Homo sapiens: one gene and its partner. The protein of the gene in region 2 interacts with the protein of the main gene of each other region in a pairwise test. Each region holds a gene or a part of one and is shown on either strand. Other genes may lie near its edges. The genes, in order: GRSF1 and BTBD6.

Region 1 (8,895 bases), on a different chromosome or scaffold from region 2:
GAGTAGCTGGAATTACAGGCGCCCGCCACCACGCCCAGCTGATTTTTTGTATTTTTAGTAGAGACAGGGTTTCACTATGTTGGCCAGGCTGGTCTCAAACTCCAGACCTCAGGTGATTCACCTGCCTCAGCCTCCCAAAGTGCTGGGATTATAGGCATGAGCCACCATGCCCAGCCCACACACTGCTAATTTTTTTATTTTTTATTTTTGTAGACATGGGTTCTTGCCATGTTGCCCAAGTTGCTCTTGAACTCCTGGGCTCAAGTGATCCTCCCACTTCGGCCTCCCAAAGTGCTGGGATTATAGGCATGGGCCACCGCGCCCAGCACAGTTTCCTTTTTCTTAACATGGCCTTCTAAACTAAGAGTTATAAAACTAGCTTGTGTTTACAAATCTATAAAGATTAGATGAGCACTACTTCTTTAAAAAAAAAACCTTTGAGCCTGGACAACAAAGTGAGACACCATCTCTACAAAAGTTTTTTTTTGTTTTTTTTTTTAATTAGCCAGGAGACCAGGTACAGTGGCTCACACCTATAATCCCAGTACTTTGGGAGGCTGAGGCAGGTGGATCACTTGAGCTCAGGAGTGTGAGACCAGCTTGGGCAACATGCAAAACCCCGTCTCTACAAAAATACAAAAATTAGCTGGGTGTGGTGGCATGTATCTGTAGTCCCAGCTACTTGGGAGGCTGAAGTGGGAGGATTGCTTGAGCCCAGGAGGCCACAACTGCAGTGAGCTGTATCACACAACTGCACTCCAGCGAGGGTAACAGAATAAGACTCTGTCTAAAATTAGCCAGGCATGGTGATGCATGCCTGTGGTACCAGCTACAAGGAAAGCTGAGATGGCAGGACTGCTTGAGCCCAGAAGGTCAAGGCTGAAATGAGCAGTGTTTGTGGCACTGCACTTCAGCCTGGGTGACAGAGCAAGATCCTGTCTCAAAAAACCAAAAAACCTTTGAACCACTTCTATCAGTAGATCCTGAAACACTGGCTTTGGAATGGCTGTTTTGTTTACTTCAAAGGAGCTGATTTAAAAGGCCAGAAAACAGTAAAAAAAAAAATTAACGAAACAGTGATTTAACATTTGACATTTTAAACTGTACCTCCAAAGTTAAAGTTAAAACACAAATGAACCCACTTATCATCATGTGCATCCTGAGGTGATGTCAACATGAGATACTGTACAAGACAACTGATCTAATTTCTTCAAAAGTCAATTGCTTTTAAAAAGGGGGGAAGAATAAGTAAGGGGGATTTGCTCTAGTTCAAGAGAATCAGTGGTCAGGTGCAGTGGCTCACACCTGTAATCCTAGCGTTTTGGGAAGCCAAAGCGGGCGATCACTTGAGCCCATGAGTTTGAGGCCAGCCAGGGCAACACAGCAAGACCCCACCTACAAACACACACGCACGCACGCACACACACATACACACAGCCAGGTGTGGCGGCACATGCCTATTGTTCTAGCTAGTTGGGAGGATGAGGCGAGACGATTGCTTGAGCCCAGGAATTCAAGGCTGTAGTGAGCTATCATCATGCCACTGCACTCCAGCCTGGGTGACAGAATAAGACCCTGTGTCTTAAAAAAAAAAAAAAAACACACACACACACAGAGAATTATGGACATAACAATCAAATGCAGTGTGTAGACCTTATCTGGATTCTGTATTTTTGTCCGGTGTGCTGGCTCACACCTGTAATCCCAGCACTTTTGGAGGCCGAGGTGGGTGAATGACTTGAGTCCGGGAGTTCTAGACCAGCCTGGCCAACATGGTAAAACCTTGTCTCTACTAAAAATACAAAACTTAGCTGGGCATGGTGGCGCATGCCTCTAGTTCCAGCTACTCAGGAGGCTGAGGCAGGAGGATCACATGAAACTGGGAGGCAGAGAGAGGATGCAGTGAGCCAAGATCACACCACCGCACTCCAGCCTAGGCGGCAGAGTGAAACTCCGTTGCCAAAAAAAAAAAGGCTATTTTTGGTATAATTGGGAAAATGCTATTATGAACTGTTATTAGATAATATACTATTGCTAACAGTGTTAGATATAACATTGAAATTATGTAAAAAAATTTTTTTAAAAGATGCATACTAAAAAAAACCCAGATGAAGCAAATATAACAGATGTTACATTTTATATATAAATGTGTTAATCTAGCTGCTCTAGGTACTCTGTCTATGGGTTAGTCCCTGCCCCACAAGGAGCAGTCAAGCCGGATGCGGTGGCTCACGCCTGTAATCCCAGCACTTTGGGAGGCCGAGGCGGGCGGATCACAAGGTCGAGAGATCGAGACCACCCTGGCCAACATGGTGAAACCCCGTCTCTACTAAAAATACAAAAAAAGCCGGGCATGGTGGCAGGCGCCTGTAATCCCAGCTACTTGGGAGGCTGAGGCAGGAGAATCGCTTAAACCAGGGAGGCAGAGGTTGCAGTGAGCCAAGATCGTGCCATTGCACTCTAGCCTAGGCAAAAAGAGTGAAACTCTGTCTCAAAAAAAAAAAAAAGGAGCAGTCGAAAAAAAATTGTTAATCTAAATTATGGGCATTTGATGGCTCACTACACTACTCTCTCTACTTTTCTATGTTTGGATAACTTTTCAGTCATATTACAGCACATTCATCAAAATGACTTAATGTGTAACACTTCTGCATCATTAGTATCTGCTTTACTCACCGATTACCAATTTCTTCCCTGTGTTTCAACAGGGCTTGGTTGGCCATTTCTGGTTCTTCAAATTGCACATAGGCTTCCCCTGTTTTTCGCCTCCCTCTATAGTCCATCACAAAAGTAATGTCAACTATATTCAGTCCTAGGACACCAAGAGATTTTAATGCTACTAGCAGGCTTTTTTATCCTTAGAATTAACACCATCATTCACATACTAATAAAATTTTTATTCTGTTTTGCCAGTCCCAAAACTGAATACATGCTTGACAGGAAGAAAATTATTATGCAGTCAAAAGTCAGTCAACACCTACATACTTGTATTTCCAGAATAGGTAAGGTCCAAGAAGCCCACCCAAAACATACAATTCTCCCCACCAGTTTTTTTTTTTTTTTTTGCTGTTAATTATATACTAGGAAACAATAGAAATCACAGACTTCACTGCTAATGGTTCTAGGAATTAGAAAATACTTTTAAATTATATAAATTGTTATTGTCTTACACAAATACAGCAACTATTATGAGAAGTTATTTCCTTCAATAGTAAAACCCTCATGAAATTATTCTGAAATCTGACTTCCCTCCTAAAATCTGCCTGATAGAACAAAAACACATATAAAATCTATAAATATTAGAAATTTAAGTGAAGAGCTCTCCCCTAAAGAACCTAATATAACTGCATGCCTTTGCCCAGAAACAGGCTCATCTAAGATATAGAAGGAGATACCAAGGGAAAAAAGATATGAGCTCCCAAGCATAATACAACTGCAAAGTACCTGCAAAGAAGTCTACAATGTCTTTCTCATTGCAACTATAAGGAAGTCCTCTCAAACGAACCACACCATCATTTACCACAGGCGAAGATTTGACCTGCAAGCTCTTCATTAAGGCATCCACATCTTCATTGTTTATCTCATATACTACGAAGAAAAAACCCAACAGGGATGAAAAATTTACATAACAAAGGAACAAACCCATTAAAAAAAATCATTACAACTTGCTGGGTTATCTGAGAATTCAATAACTATTTTAATCTTTATGCGCTTCTCTAGAGAAAATAACAAATGACATTTATTGCATATTTACCATGCGGGCATAACTTCTTTATTTCTCACAGCTTGTAAGATACTTCATTGGCCAGGCACACTGGCTCACGCCTATAATCCCAGAACTTTGGGAGGCCAAGGCGGGTGGATTACCTGAGGTCAGGAGTTTGAGACCAGCCTGACCAATATGGTAAAACCCCATCTCTAATAAAAATACAAAAATTAGCTGGGTATCATGGCATGTGCCTGTAGTCCCAGCTACTTGGGAGGCTGAGACAGGAGAATTGCTTGAACCCAGGAGGCAGAGGTTGCAGTGAGCTGAAATCGCACCACTGCACTCCAGCCTGGGTGACAGAGTGAGATTCCATCCCCCCCACAAAAAAAAGAAACTTTATCTCTTTATGTTTTATTTTCACATCCTATAAAAGAATGCATTCATACAATCTAAATACTTCATTATTAAGGATCAAATAAAAACTACCTTGAAAAGTATAAAACCTAATGCAATGATCCCAAAAAGCCATAATCTGACTTCACATACCTTCCACATACCGCTGGCCCATGTACATGCGGTGCTTCTCTAAGGCTTTCTGCACATCCTGCTCTGACTCCATTTCAATTAAGGCATCACCCCTTCGTTTCCCATCTCTGTTTAGGAGAAAATGTATTCCATTCTCACCGTTGCGGATTCTGCAGTCTAAAAGTGTATGAGCAAAATCAATTGAAAACAGAAATCAAACTTTTAGCTCAATTATGTAAGTCACAAGAATGCAGTTTTCCAACAACAAAGCAGGAAACAAGTGTCATATTCCTTACACAAATCCCCATCACTGAAGTCATCCAAACACCAATAAGGATTTAGTCTCTAAAACCTTCCAAGTAGAAAAGATAAGCAAACCTTAGCACAGAAGCTTATGATCTCCTTCCTGATCATTAAATAGCAAATCAGGATAGGCCCAACACAAAATTCATTATTTCTATTGCAATGTTTCTACAATCACTTAAGGAAATACAATATAGTTAAATTTATACATAAGTGTCTTCCTTTAAAATCATCTCCATAGGTCTCTAAAATATTTCCTGTATGAGTAATTTTATTACCATAGTTTAACTTTTTGTTTTTGTAGAGAGGCGGTCTCATTTTGTTGCACAGGCTGGTCTTGAACTCTTGGGCTTAAGTAATCCTCCCACCTTAGTCTCCCAAAGTGCTGGGATTACAGGCATCAGCCACCACACCCAGCCTTTTTCCCCTTTTCATACTGCATACTTTTTATAATGGGAGTAGTCCAAGATGTAAGTGGCCAAGTGGCTTTAAAAAAAAGTTTGACCAGGCTCACTCTGGGCATACTGCCTAGGATTTACTCCTGCTCCACAAGGAGCAGCTAAAAAAATTAATGAAATAGCCAGGCATGGTGGTTCATGCCTGTAATCCCAGCCCTTTGGGAGGCCAAGGTGGTGGATCACCTGAGGTCAGGAGTTTGAGACCAACCTGGCCAACACGGCAAAACCCTGTCTCTACTAAAAATACAAAAATTAGCCGGGCATGGTGATAGGTGCCTGCTGTCCCACCAACTCAGGAGGCTGAGGCAGGAGAATCCCTTGAACCCGGGAGGTGGAGGTTGCAATGAGCCGAGATTGCGCTACTGCACTCCAGCCTGGGTGACAGAGCAAGACTCCATCTCAAAAAAATTAATAAAAATAAATCATAGTCAGATACAGAAACTAAAAAAAAAAATCCCACAGATATGTAAACCCTCCAAACATGTTATTAAGGGAACTTTATTCCTTGATACTAAGTGACCTTCTATTGTAAATGTCTGTATTACATAAAGAGTCACCCTTAATTCCATATTTCCACTGACAGGCTTGACTTTTTGATATGTATATATTAATACCACAGAGAAAAATAATTTCAAACCATGTAATTTTGTTTTTCAACTTTTATTTAGTACATGTATAGGACTGCTACATAGGTAAACCATGTGTTATGGGAGTTCGGTATACAGATAATTTAGTTACCCAGGTAGCAAGCACAGTACCCAATAGGTTTTATTTTTCTTTTTGAGACAGAGTCTCTCTCTGTCACCACGGCTGGAGTACAGTGGTGTGAACTCAGCTCACTGCAACCTCCGCCTCCCAGATTCAAGCGATTCTCCTGCCTCAGCCTCCCAGGTAGCTGGGACTACGGGAGCGTGCCACCACGCCCGGCTAATTTTTTTTGTATTTTTAGGAGAGATGGGGTTTCAACATGTTAGCCAGGATGGTCTCGATCTCCTGACCTCGTGATCCGCCCGCCTCGGCCTCCCAAAGTGCTGGGATTACAGGCGTGAGCCACCGCACTTGGACCCGATAGGTATTTTTTAATCTTCTCCCCAACCCTCAAGTTGGCCCTGGTGTCTTCTTGTTCCCCTCTTTGTGTCCATGTGTTCTCATTGTTTAGCTCCCACTTGTAAGTGAAAACATACAGTATTAAGTTTAATGTTCCATGTTAGTTTGCTTAGGATAATGGTCTCCAGCACCACCCACATTGCTGCAAAGCACATAATCTCACTCTTTGTTATGGCTACGTAGTATTCCATCATACCAGCCGGGCACGGTGGCTCACGCCTGTAATCCCAGCACTGTGGGAAGCCGAGGCAGGCAGATCACAAGGTCAGGAGATTGAGATCATCCTGGCTAACACGGTGAAACCCCAGCTCTACTAAAAATACAAAAAATTAACTGGGTGTGGTGGCAGTCGCTACTAGGGAGGCTGAGGCAGGAGAATGGTGTGAACCCGGGAGGCGGAGCTTGCAGTGAGCTGAGATCATGCCACTGCACTCCAGCCTGGCGACAGAGCGAGACTCCGTCTCAAAAAAAAAAAAACCTACATAGTATGATGGATTTTTTTTTTTTTTTGAGACAGAGTCTCACTCTGTCGCCCAGGCTGGAATGCAGTGGCACCATCTCGGCTCACTGCAAGCTCCACCTCCCGGATTCACACCATTCTCCTGCCTCAGCCTCCCAAGTAGCTGGGACTACAAGCCTGGGTAATTTTTGTATTTTTAGTAGAGACGGGGTTTCACTATGTTAGCCAGGATGGTCTCGATCTCCTGAGCTTGTGATCCGCCCGCCTCGGCCTCCCAAAGTGCTGGGATTACAGGCGTGAGCCACTGCGCCTGGCCCATACTATGCAGTCTTAACGTTAAAATACTTTTGTTGCATTCAAAGTCTTTATACATATGTAAATTGAGACAGTCTCACAGTGTTGCCCAGTGTGGTATGGAACTACTGGCCTCAAGCCATCCTTCCACCTTGGCCTCCCAAACTGCTGATTACAGGCCTGAGCCACTGCCCCTGGCCCAAAGTCTTTCAATTCGTTACATACCGCAAACAGCACACATGGTATCATTTGGTATATGCAACCAACCAGAATGAGACAGTTCCCAACCATCAAAAAGGAAGGTGACAGCGTAGTCTGACATGGATTTGTAGCACTACCTTTTACTCAGACAAAATTACATACTTAAAACATACATACCTGCTTGTGAGAAACAATATAAGGAAAAAAAATAAATAAATAAAACATACATAAAATATACCTGAAAAAAAGTTAAGCACATCTTCCATAGTGCATGACCAGGGCAGTCCTTGAGCTCGAATGAGAAAGACATCATCCACTTCCTCTTCTAACTTGGACGGGGCCAATTCATACTCAGGGGGTGGTGGAAGGTCTTCCAGGTAAGTAGTTTTGGACTCCTTCCAAAGGAAATGAAGAATTGTAAAAAGAGTTGCATTTACAGGTAAAAAATGTAAAAAAATTCTTAGAAAATGTTTATTCTACAAACTAACATTCTAGATGTTATTTCAGAAGCAAAAAGTAAACTTCACCAATGTAACCCATCCTGTTTTGGCTTAAATTGTACATCCAAAAGCCATAAGCAGGTATATCCTAAAGGTTTGGCAGGACACAAATTTCATTCAGGGTTTGTTTTAAAATTCATCAACCCCAAATTATAGCTAACAATAGTGTAGTTAAGGCAACACAAGAAAGGTCCTGACAATTTGACAAATATTTGATTGCCCCTACACACAGTGTTTGCCGCCCTCATCTGAAATAGCTATCTAGAATACGATAAGCATACAAGATGAGATACTGAGTGCTATAATTAAGATACAAAATACTACAGGAATTCAAATCAGAGCACTAACAGATGAATCAGGATGTGACATGAGATGGGCCTTGAAGGAAGGATAGAATTTTTATGAGGATATAAAAGATAGGGTATTCCAGTTTGAAGGCGAGAGAAAGAAGCAGTACGACCAAATGCCCATTTGAATAACAGCAATTAATTCCAACTGTTTAAATTAGGAGCCAAAGAAGGTGACCTGGCAAAAGAGGTTGGTACCATAGAGCAGAGGGCCTTGAGTGTGGAGCTCAATGTGTGTCCTTCACTTGGTAGGCAAAGATAAGTTAATACAAGACACTGAGGACTGGGTAAATCAACAAGACAGCAGGACGCCTTGGGAATATTCCTCTGTCAGCTGGTATGCCAGACCAAGTGATTAAGGGAAAGATCTTAAAGACAACGGCAGCAGTGTGAGGCTACAGACTTGTAAAGTCTCTTTTATCGGATTAAGTAAAACTGGAATTTAGTAAGAATCCACGAAGCACTACAACCATAACCTAAGAAGACAACTCAGGCTTTAAGACTTGCACTCTACTGGGCCAGGTGCGGTGGCTCACGCCTGTAATCCCAGCACCTTGGGAGGCCGAGGTGGGCGAATCACGAGGTCAGGAGTTCAAGACCAGCCTGGCCAACATGGCAAAACCCCATCTCTACTAAAAATACAAAAAATGAGCCGGGTGTGGTGGCGTGTGCCCGTAATCCCAGCTACTCGGGAGGCTGAGGCAGGATAATCGCCTGAACCCGGGAGGTAGAGGTTTCAGTGAGCTGAGATCTCGGCATTTCACTCCAGCATGGGCAACAGAGCAAGACTCCGTCTCAAAAAAAAAAAAAAAAAAAGACTTGCACTCTACCGGACTAAGGACAGAGATATCTTTCTACTATCTGTCATTTTCTTTTCTTTTCTTTTTTCTTGAGACGGAGTTTCGCTCTTGTCGCCCAGACTAGAGTATAATGGCACAATCTCGGCTCACTGCAACCTCCCCGGGTTCAAAGGATTCTCCTGCCTCAGCCT
Region 2 (9,050 bases):
TAGGCATCTGGGTGAGATGCTGGGGTGTCCGGCAGGCTGCTGTAGGGACCAGCGTGCCAAATGTCCTTTGAACAGTGGAGGGAAATCCTGTCCAAGCATGGGACCCCTCAAGGTAAGAAATGTTTCTTAAAGCTGCTAGGAGCTCAGTAATGTGGGGCCTTATTTTCTAAGACACAGTCTCGCTGTTGTCCAGGCTGGAGTGCAGTGGCACAATCGTAGCTCACTGCAGCCTCAAACTCCTGGCCTCAAGTGATCCTCGTGCCTTCGCCTCCCAAAGCACTGGGATTACAGGCATGAGACCGCACCTGGCCTGGGGCTTGCTTTCTGCTGCAAAACCAGAAGGCCTGTTGTCAGTGCCTGTCAGGTGGCAGGAAGGTGTAGACAGGGAAACAAGTGCTGCGTGCTGGGAGCATCTTGTGTGGACAAGGTTTAAGGGACACACCTGGCTCCAGGTGCCTCTGGACAGATGGGGACAGTGGGGCAGCTCCTGGTTGTGCTTTCCAGCCACAGCCCTCTTTTGTGGTTTTTCTGCCACTTTTGTTCTGTGTTGTGTGCGAGTTTGTGGAACTCCTGTATGCCTTTCTTGATGTGTGTTAGGTGTAGGGTAAGTCCTGTCTCTCCCTCGAGGCAGCAGCAGTGTTCATGCATGCAGAATCTAACCTAGCGGAAAAGTCTAGAAGGAAAGGATCAAAACAGCACTCACTGCCCGATGGTTCTGACCTACCCTTTCTTTACCAAGCAGATGACTGGTTTCCATGGCCCGCTTAGAGGCCCCTTTCTTACTTTGCCTGTTTGCATCTAGGAGCGTATGTCCTTTGGGTAGAGAAGCACCAGGTGGGGCTGGGTCACCAACAGGACTGAGCAACACGGGCTGCAGCAGCAGAGGGGCACCGGCTGAGGCTATACACTCGGCCCATGCCCTCTCCCAGGTGCCAAGAGGGGCCATCCCTCTTTTCGGGGGTCATACAGGTTTTCCAGAAAACAACTGCCTACAGGGTATGCAGAGTGGGAGGAGAGAGACAAGGGGTGGGAGAGCCTGTTTCACCCTATAGTCCACTCCTGCAACAGGCTGTCCCGCAGCAGTGTCACAGCTAGTGACAGTCCCCAGGGTCCAGAACGCTGGGCCCAGCAGAATGCTCCCCCGACAGTCTGTTCATAGGGTAGGACTCTGAGGTGCTAGTGATGCATTAGGACATAGAGACAACCAGGCACCTGGTGTTTCCTAGGGTGGCCCAGAAGCCAGCCAGCAACCCAGGGGACAGATGGGCTTCACTGGGGCGCAGTTTGCTCCTAACCACATAGCATGTTCAGCATGACAGGTTTTCTCCTCGGGATGGGAGGGAGCTGTTCTGTTGCATGAGAAAGAGAATACCCCACTGTACAACTGCTGTAGTCATTTACTGACACGTGGGTGTTATTTTAGGCAACCTTTATTACAGAAGTCCACTATTTTAAGTGACTTTTTGCCAATTTTAGATTTGAAGGGAAGGTCTCAAGTTAAGCTTGGAACCACTTAGAATCCAAGAGGGTAGCAGGAAGATCCAACCCCTCAAAGCAGGTGGCATGGGTGCCACTGGGAGGGGATCTGGGGCCTGTCTTGAGCCGTAAATCTTCCTCCACCTGAGACGTGCACCCCACTGTACCAGAGATGCCTAAGACTCCAATCCCTGGGTTCTGGCTGTGTGGAAAATGTCTCTACACAGTCAAGCTTCAGCTGACTACATGTCAAAGAGAGACAAAGTTAAGAGCAGCCTTTCATGGTGTCAAGAAGCAGTTAGCATCTTGACTTCCCCTCCACTCACTCGCTGACCTGCTGCAGCCTCCCCGGGCACCTCAGGCATAGAAAATGAGCTCAGGGATCTGCCCACCCTGGACCCCAGTCCCGTTGGTGCTGTCCGAGGAGCACTGGAACTGGAAGGCCACCTTTCCACACTGCACTTCCGTCATCCCCTCCTGCCCAAAGTAGCTGAGTTCGCTGCCGTCCAGGACGGCACTGGCCGTGTAGAAGGTGTCTTGTTCAACCTGGACCGGGTGTTCAAACCAGACCGGGAAGGTGTTACTGGATCCGTCTGACATGAACTTGGTCAAGTTCTGAGCCAGAACCACCCCGAGCCGCTTGAGCTCAATCTTCACGCTGTACTCAGCCTTCCCAGAGCTGGAGCCATACAGGCCCAGCCCTGCAATAAATACCCTTCTGTCCACTGCAAACTGGATGCTGTCGCAGCGCCCGCGGTACCGCCACTGGTTGCTGCGGTAGGCAGAAGACTGGAATCGGTGGCACCTCTGCGGGGCGAGGCCCTTCCTCTTGGTCAGGGGAAAGTCCAGGCGGGGCTTGTTGGTGGCCGTGTACCACAGGAAGATGCTGTGGGTCTCCTCCAGAGTCAGGATGTCTGACTGGGCAGCGCCGTTGGCAAACTCCTCTAGGGTCATGGTTGGAATTCGGACCAGATAGAGGGCTCGCCCCAGAACATGCCTCTTGTTTCGTGGGGTGATTGGCAGCCCCTGCCTCTTGCACTCCGCCTCGGCCCAGTTCAGGACGGCCTCGAAGACCACCGCCTCTTTGGTGTTGAGGGCCTCCCGAGTGACAATGATCTCCAGCGTCTGCCGGTCTATCTCACAGAAGCCTTCGGACCGTAGGGCCATCTCGGCCTGTGCGTCAATGACCTCCCAGCAGCGCTGCGTCAGCTCGGGCTCCTCAAACAGCCGGCTCTGGGACAGCAGGACGCAGGCGTTCTTGGCTTCCAAACTTGTCTCCAGAAAGTTGACACAGGCTTTTGCCAATGCTGGGACGATGTACTTCTTAGCAGCGTACAGAGTGGCCAGCACCGTGTCGGCTTCCAGATCGATCTCATCACTGTACATGTACCTAGGCGAGGCAGGGCCCGCGTCAGGGGCTGGCTCCCAAGCACCCATCGCGGGGCTGGGCCTGGGAGAGGAGTCCATCAGCTCCTGTGTGCTTCCCTTCAGAAGCCTCCGGAGGCCGCCTAAAACGGACCCACCCGTCCCTCCCCAGTAGAGTGGACTTACTTTAAGAGGATCAGAAAGGCTGCGGGCTCCACGTCTGGAATGTGAATTTCAGATTTGACTTCCGCCAGGTCTCCGTAGAACATGGCATAGAAGACGGAGCTGCCGACAGCCAAGACGTACTGGGAGGAGAAAGCGCCGCCGTGAGCCTGGCTCTCCCGCAGGCTGCGTGTCAGCCACACGGCGGACGGGGCGGACGGGGCACGCGTTCCGAGAGGGGCCGCCGCTACCCACCTTGTGGGCGGGCACCGTCCTGGTCGCCCCCGGGGGCCCCACGACGAAGTGCACGTCGGCCATGAGCTCGTTGTTGAACATGAGCGCGTTCCTGCAAAGGTAGAGGCACGGGCTGGGGGCGTGGGCGCGCGCGGGCGCGGGGGCCGCGGGGCACGGGCTCACCTCTCGCGCAGCGTGGGGCGGCAGCACCGCCAGCCGGGGCTCTCCTGGTGGTTGTTGCCGAGTGTGGGCGGCGCGGGCGCGGGCGGCGGCGGCGCTGGCGCGGGGGCGCTGGGCGGGCTGCGCGGCCCGGCCTTCCTGCCCACGGCGGCGCCGGCGTTGCTGTTGGCTAGGTCCGCGGCCGCGGCGCTGGCGGGAGCGTAGAGTTCCGCCGCCATCTTCGCGGGCGGGGCGGCGGGGGCAGCCTCGGCGCCTGTGGACGCCGCGCCCCGCGCCCTCGCGCCGCGCCGGGGCCTCGGGAGCGGCTCTGCAAGCAAAAGCAAGGAGGTCAGGCACTGAGCGACGCGGCCGTGCAGGCAGGCTAGGGGCAGCAGCATGGGCGGCGGCGGCGCTGTGACCCGCGGGGCTGCCACCCGCTCCCCTGCCACCCCCGCCCCTGCGACCCTGCCCGAGCCCAGCCTAGCGCAGCCCGGCCAGGCCCGGCCGCGGGGGGCGCCGTCCCGCCCGCCCGCCCGCCCGAGCCCGTACCCGCCGCGGCGCCGGTGCGTCACGCTGCGTCAGGGCCGCGCCCCGCGCGACGTCGCTGCCTCGCGGCCCCGCCCCCAGGCCCGACATCCTCGAAGCTGCTCGAGCTTCTGCCCAGCAACCGGCGCGAGCCGCGCGCTGTGCAGAGGTAGCCGTGGAAGGCGGCTCCCGGCGCTGGCAGGCGGCCGCCCCCAGACCCGCAGTGCCATGCGCAGGTGCTTGCGCCCGTTCTTCAGTTAGCGATCTTTTGGTTAGGAACGCAGGTGGACCTGCTTGTTTGGCCATTTGCATTCCGGAGTCTGCCTCTGGCCGCGGCCTGTGGGATGGTCGTTGGGCTTCCTCGTTCGTTCAGATGCTTCGCGATTTAGCTTGCTACGGACGCCAGCAGCCAGCGCTTGCAGAGAGCGCGGTCCACTCTGCTCTGAGGGCTTTACAGGGGCAGGCGCTGCTATTTCCCGGCATTTTCCTCGAGGAAATAGGCACAGAGAGGTTAGTCGCGCGCTGAAGGTCACACAGCCGGCGGGTGGGCAAGTCAGGATCTGGCCCTGGGCCTGCAGCCCTGGAGCTTGGGCCCCAGGGCGCGCCCTGCCTCTGTGGCTCTGCCTGTGGATCGCAGTCGCAGGCTCGCTCCTTGTGGGGCCTCTAGCCTCCCGGCCTGGGGCTAATCCTGGGAGGTGCGTGGCATGGGGCACTGGCTTTGCTGATGAGGAGACCAGACTTCAGAGGCCGTGTCACCTGGCCTGGGCCGCACAGCTGGTGCATGCCAAGCTCGCGTGCAGACGAAGCTCCAGAGGCCTGGCTGTCAGGAGGGTTCCTCCCCGAGGACACACACGCAACCTCCTGGACCGCCAGGCTTTAGACTTTTAAAACTTCCATATGCAGGAAACCCCACAGGACGCAGCCAGCATCTCGGGTCATGGGTGCACCTGTCACCGCAGTCCTGGGCTAAACAGTGAACAGGAGCTCTGTGTCTCTGTGGTCGTTACAGTTGTAGTGAATGTTCCCTGGGAGAGTCCTCTTCAGAAGATATTTGCGGTATTTTCAACAAAGGACTCTCCAGGATGGAGGAGCAACTACAAGTCAGGAAGGAAAAGGCTGACAACCCAGTTTTTTAAAAAACGGGCAAAGGACGTGAACAGACACCATGCAATGGCCCAGAGTGCACAAATCATCATTTCTCCCAGGAATGGGGTGCCCGAGCCCCCAGGCGGCTGAACTTGAGACTTGTCACGTAGTGTTGGTGGAATGCAGAGCAGCTGGAGATCACCTGCTGCAGGTGGGTGCGTAACTCCGCACGGCCAAGCCGTTTGGAAAGCTGTAGCATATGCATGAGAGTCCGGAAAGTTCCGAGAGAAAGTGTGTGGATGCACCCGCCAAGGACACACCCACCGAGGCCACAGCTGCGATTTCATAGTGTGGGACCCCACTGGCAAAGACACGCTGGCTGCTGTGGCCGTGGTTTCTGTCCCAGCCGTCTGTTTCCATAGAAAAAGGTAACGGGCATAAGCAGTTTCCAGGAGAAATACAAATGGCCAGAGTGGAGACAGCCTACATGTCCATCAGCAACAGAAAGGATCAGCAGGTTGTGGTGGGTCCATTTGGGGAATGCAGTGAGAAGGAATAACTTACAGCAGCACACAAGACCTGGGCGACAGCTGTCTCCGGGGGTGCCAGGATAGAATTGCTGAGCCGCCAGAGGTAGTCAGCGTCTTGATCTGCATGGTGGTGTGGAGCATGTGAATAATAATTTTCATCCTTAGAAAGAAACCACCCTTTGCACTTTGATTTTTAAATATGTTACAGTGTAGGTTGGGCGCGGTGGCTCACGCCTGTAATCCCAGCACTTTGGGAGGCCAAGGTGGGCGGATCACTTGAGGTCAGGAGTTTGAGACCAGCCTGGCCAACATGGTGAAACCCCATCTCTACTAAAAATACAAAAATTAACGGGCACCTGTAATCCCAGCTATTCGGGAGGCCAAGGAAGGAGAATGGCTCGAACCAGGGAGGCGGAGGTTGCAGTGAGCTGAGATCATGCTACTGCACTCCAGCCTGGATGACAGAGCGAGACTCCGTTGACCAGGCTGGTCTTAAACTCCTGGCCTCAAGTGATCTACCTGCCTAGGCCTCCCAAAGTGCTGGGATTACAGGTGTGAGCCACCGCGCCCAGCCTATTCTTTTTTGTTTGTGATAATGGTCATCCTAATGGACATGAGGTAGTGTCATGTGGTTTTGATTTGCATGTCCCTGATAAATAATGATGTTGACCATCTACTCATGTGCTTGTTGGCTATTTGCATGGCGTGTTTGGAGAAACGTCTGTTCAAGGGCTTTGCCTTTTTTTTTTGAGACAGAGTCTTACTCCGTTGCCCAGGCTGGAGTGCGGTGGTGAGGGTGCACTGCAACATCCGCCTTCCAGGTTCAAGCGATTCTTGTGCCTCAGCCTCCCAAAGAGCTGGGATTACAAAAGTGCAGTTTGCCCATTTTTAATCGATTTTGTTCCTGAGTTGGAGTTTTTTGTATATTCAGGCTGTTAACCCCTTATGAGATAGATGGTTTGCACATAGTCTCTTCCATTCTATAGGATATCATTTCTGTTAATAGATTCCTTTGCTGTGCAGAAACTTTTTAGTTTGAGGTCATCCCATTTGTCTATTTTTACTTTCGTTGCCCTTGCTGTTGGTGTCATGTTCAAGAAATCATTGCCAAGACCAATGTCGTGAAGTCTTTCCCTTTGTTTTCTTCTAAGGGTTTTACAGTTTCAAGTCTGTGTTTGGGTCTTGCATCGGTTTTGAGTTAGTTTTTGTGTATGATGTAAGGTAAGGGTCTATCTTTATTTGCAAGTGGATATCCAGTTTTCCCAGCGCTGCATATTGAAGAGACCATCCTTTCCCCATTGTGCAAGAAGTTCTTGTCACCCTTGTTGAAGGTCATCTGTCTGTCATTGTCATTTCTGGCCCTGTGCTGTCCTGTCCTGTCCTGTCCTGTCCTGTTCTGTTCTGTTGGTCTGTAGGTCTGTCTTTATGTCAGCACCATACTGGCTGTTGGACTTTTTAATTCTTTTCTTGACAGTGGTAATTTATTTGCTTCTTTTTCTTATTAGTCCCTTTGCCTACTTTAAATAATTAATTTTGTTAATTTTTAGTTTTCTGTTATTTTAGTTCATTAATTTCATTGCTTCCTTTATTTATTTATTTATTTTTTTTGAGATGGAGTCTTGCTCTGTCACTCAGGCTGGAGTGCAGTGGCACGATCTCAGCTCACTGCAACCTCCACCTCCCAGGTTCAAGTGATTCTCCTGTCTCAGTCTCCTGAGTAGCTGGGATTACAGGCACTTGCCACCATGCCCGGCTAATTTTTTGTATTTTTTAGTAGAGACGGGGTTTCGCTGTGTTGCCCGGGCTGGTTTCAAACTTCTGAGCTCAGGCAATCCACCTGCCTCGGCCTCCCAAAGTGCTAGGATTACAGGTGTGAGCCACCACGCCTGACCCATTGCTGCCTTAAATACACAAAGCGCTTGAGTTAATAAAGTTACCTGAAGGATTGAACTTTAATTTCTAACAGCGTTTGGAGGTGAGGGGACTACTTGTTTTTGCTCATTTTTAGTTTTTTTTTTTTTGCACTTGGGGTCAAATGGCATGTCCTATGTGCTGTTACCTGAAATATATTGAGGGTTTCTTTGTTCTATCATACCTGGTCATTTTCATAACTGTCCCACAGACACTGGAGAAGCATGATGACTCCATGGGGTACAGAATTTAGAACATCCTTGTCAGATTGAGTCTATGGTGATGTGTCTTAAGTCGTCCCTTAGTCTTTTTTTTCCTAATCAGTCTGTCAAATTTCAGAGAACCATGTTAAAATCCCCTATTATTGTGGTTTTGAAGGTTGTTTCCAGTGTTTTTCCTTCATTTAATTCTTCCTCTGTCGCTGTGCGCCTGCAGATTCCAGGCTGCTTGACATGGGTTCCTTTCCATGATGAAATGCCATGCCTGTCCCGTGCCGCTCTGCCACTCCGCGTTTGCCCACCGTGCCGCCGCTGCCCACCACTTCCTCCTCCACCCTAGTCACTGACAGATTTGTCTTGAAAAAAACACTTTTTGCTTGTCTTTTTTGTTTTTTGTTTTGAGACATGGTGTCAGTCACCTAGGCTAGAATGCAGTGGCAAGGTCATGGCTCAATGCAGCCCCGACCTCCTGGACTCAAGCAATCCTCCCACCTCAGCCTCCCAAGTAGCTGAGACAACAGGTATGCATCACTACACTAGGCTAAATTTTTCATTTTTTGTAAAGATGGGGGTCTCACTATATTGCCTAGGCTGGTTTCAAACTCCTGGGCTCAAGCGATCCTCCTGCCTTGGCCTCCCAAAGTTCTGGGACTCACAGGTGTGAGCCACTGCATCCGGCCCCAGATTTTTGTTTTAAGAGATGGGGTCTTGCTGTGTTTCCCAGGCTGACCTCGAACTCCCGGGCTCAAGCAATCCTCCCACCTCGGCCTTCCAAGTAGCTAGGAATGTAGGTATGAGCCACTCTGCCTGGCTTGTCTTGAATTTTTTGTTTGTTTGTTTGAGATGGAGTCTCGCTCTGTCGCCTAGGCTGGAGTACAGTGGCGCAGTCTTGGTTCATTGCAACCTCCACCTCCCGGGTTCAAGCAAATTCTCCTGTTTCAGCCTCCTTAGTACCTGGGATGACTACAGGCGCACACCACCACCCCCAGCTAATTTTTGTATCTTTAGTAGAGATGGGGTTTCACTATATTGGCCAGGCTGGTCTTGAATTCCTGACGTCAGGTGATCCACCCTCCTCGGCCTCCCAAAGTGCTGGGATTACAGGTGTGAGCCACTGTGCCCAGCCGTTGATATATTTACCAGTGTTTTTGAAATGAGTTTTCTATTTCAATAATTAATGAGCATCAAAGTCTCACCCACATTAGTACATCTTTTTCTTTCTCTCTCTTTTTTTTTTTCTGTTGCCCAGGCCTGAGTACAGTGGTGCAATCACAGCTCACTGCAGCCTCAACCTCCCGGGCTCAAGTGATCCTACTGCCTCAGCCTCCTCAGTAGCTGGGACTAGACCACACCCACTAATTTTTTATTTTTATTTTTTTTTTTT

Evidence for each region.
Region 1: the proteins of BTBD6 (region 2) and GRSF1 interact in a two-hybrid assay, tested with the Homo sapiens proteins (one study listed by BioGRID).

The regions. Positions count from the first base shown.
Region 1 is NC_000004.12:70,828,863-70,837,757, forward strand, and holds part of GRSF1 (G-rich sequence factor 1), read right to left. Parts: intron 7,453-8,895; coding exon 7,296-7,452; intron 4,412-7,295; coding exon 4,256-4,411; intron 3,589-4,255; coding exon 3,445-3,588; intron 2,813-3,444; coding exon 2,677-2,812; intron 1-2,676. UniProt on the Homo sapiens protein: Regulator of post-transcriptional mitochondrial gene expression, required for assembly of the mitochondrial ribosome and for recruitment of mRNA and lncRNA. Binds RNAs containing the 14 base G-rich element.
Region 2 is NC_000014.9:105,243,456-105,252,505, reverse strand, and holds BTBD6 (BTB/POZ domain-containing protein 6 isoform 2 precursor), read right to left. Parts: upstream 3,974-9,050; 5' UTR 3,795-3,973; coding exon 3,421-3,794; intron 3,358-3,420; exon of another isoform or gene 3,350-3,357; coding exon 3,259-3,349; exon of another isoform or gene 3,147-3,258; coding exon 3,028-3,146; intron 2,867-3,027; coding exon 1,834-2,866; 3' UTR 1,413-1,833; downstream 1-1,412. UniProt on the Homo sapiens protein: Adapter protein for the cul3 E3 ubiquitin-protein ligase complex. Involved in late neuronal development and muscle formation.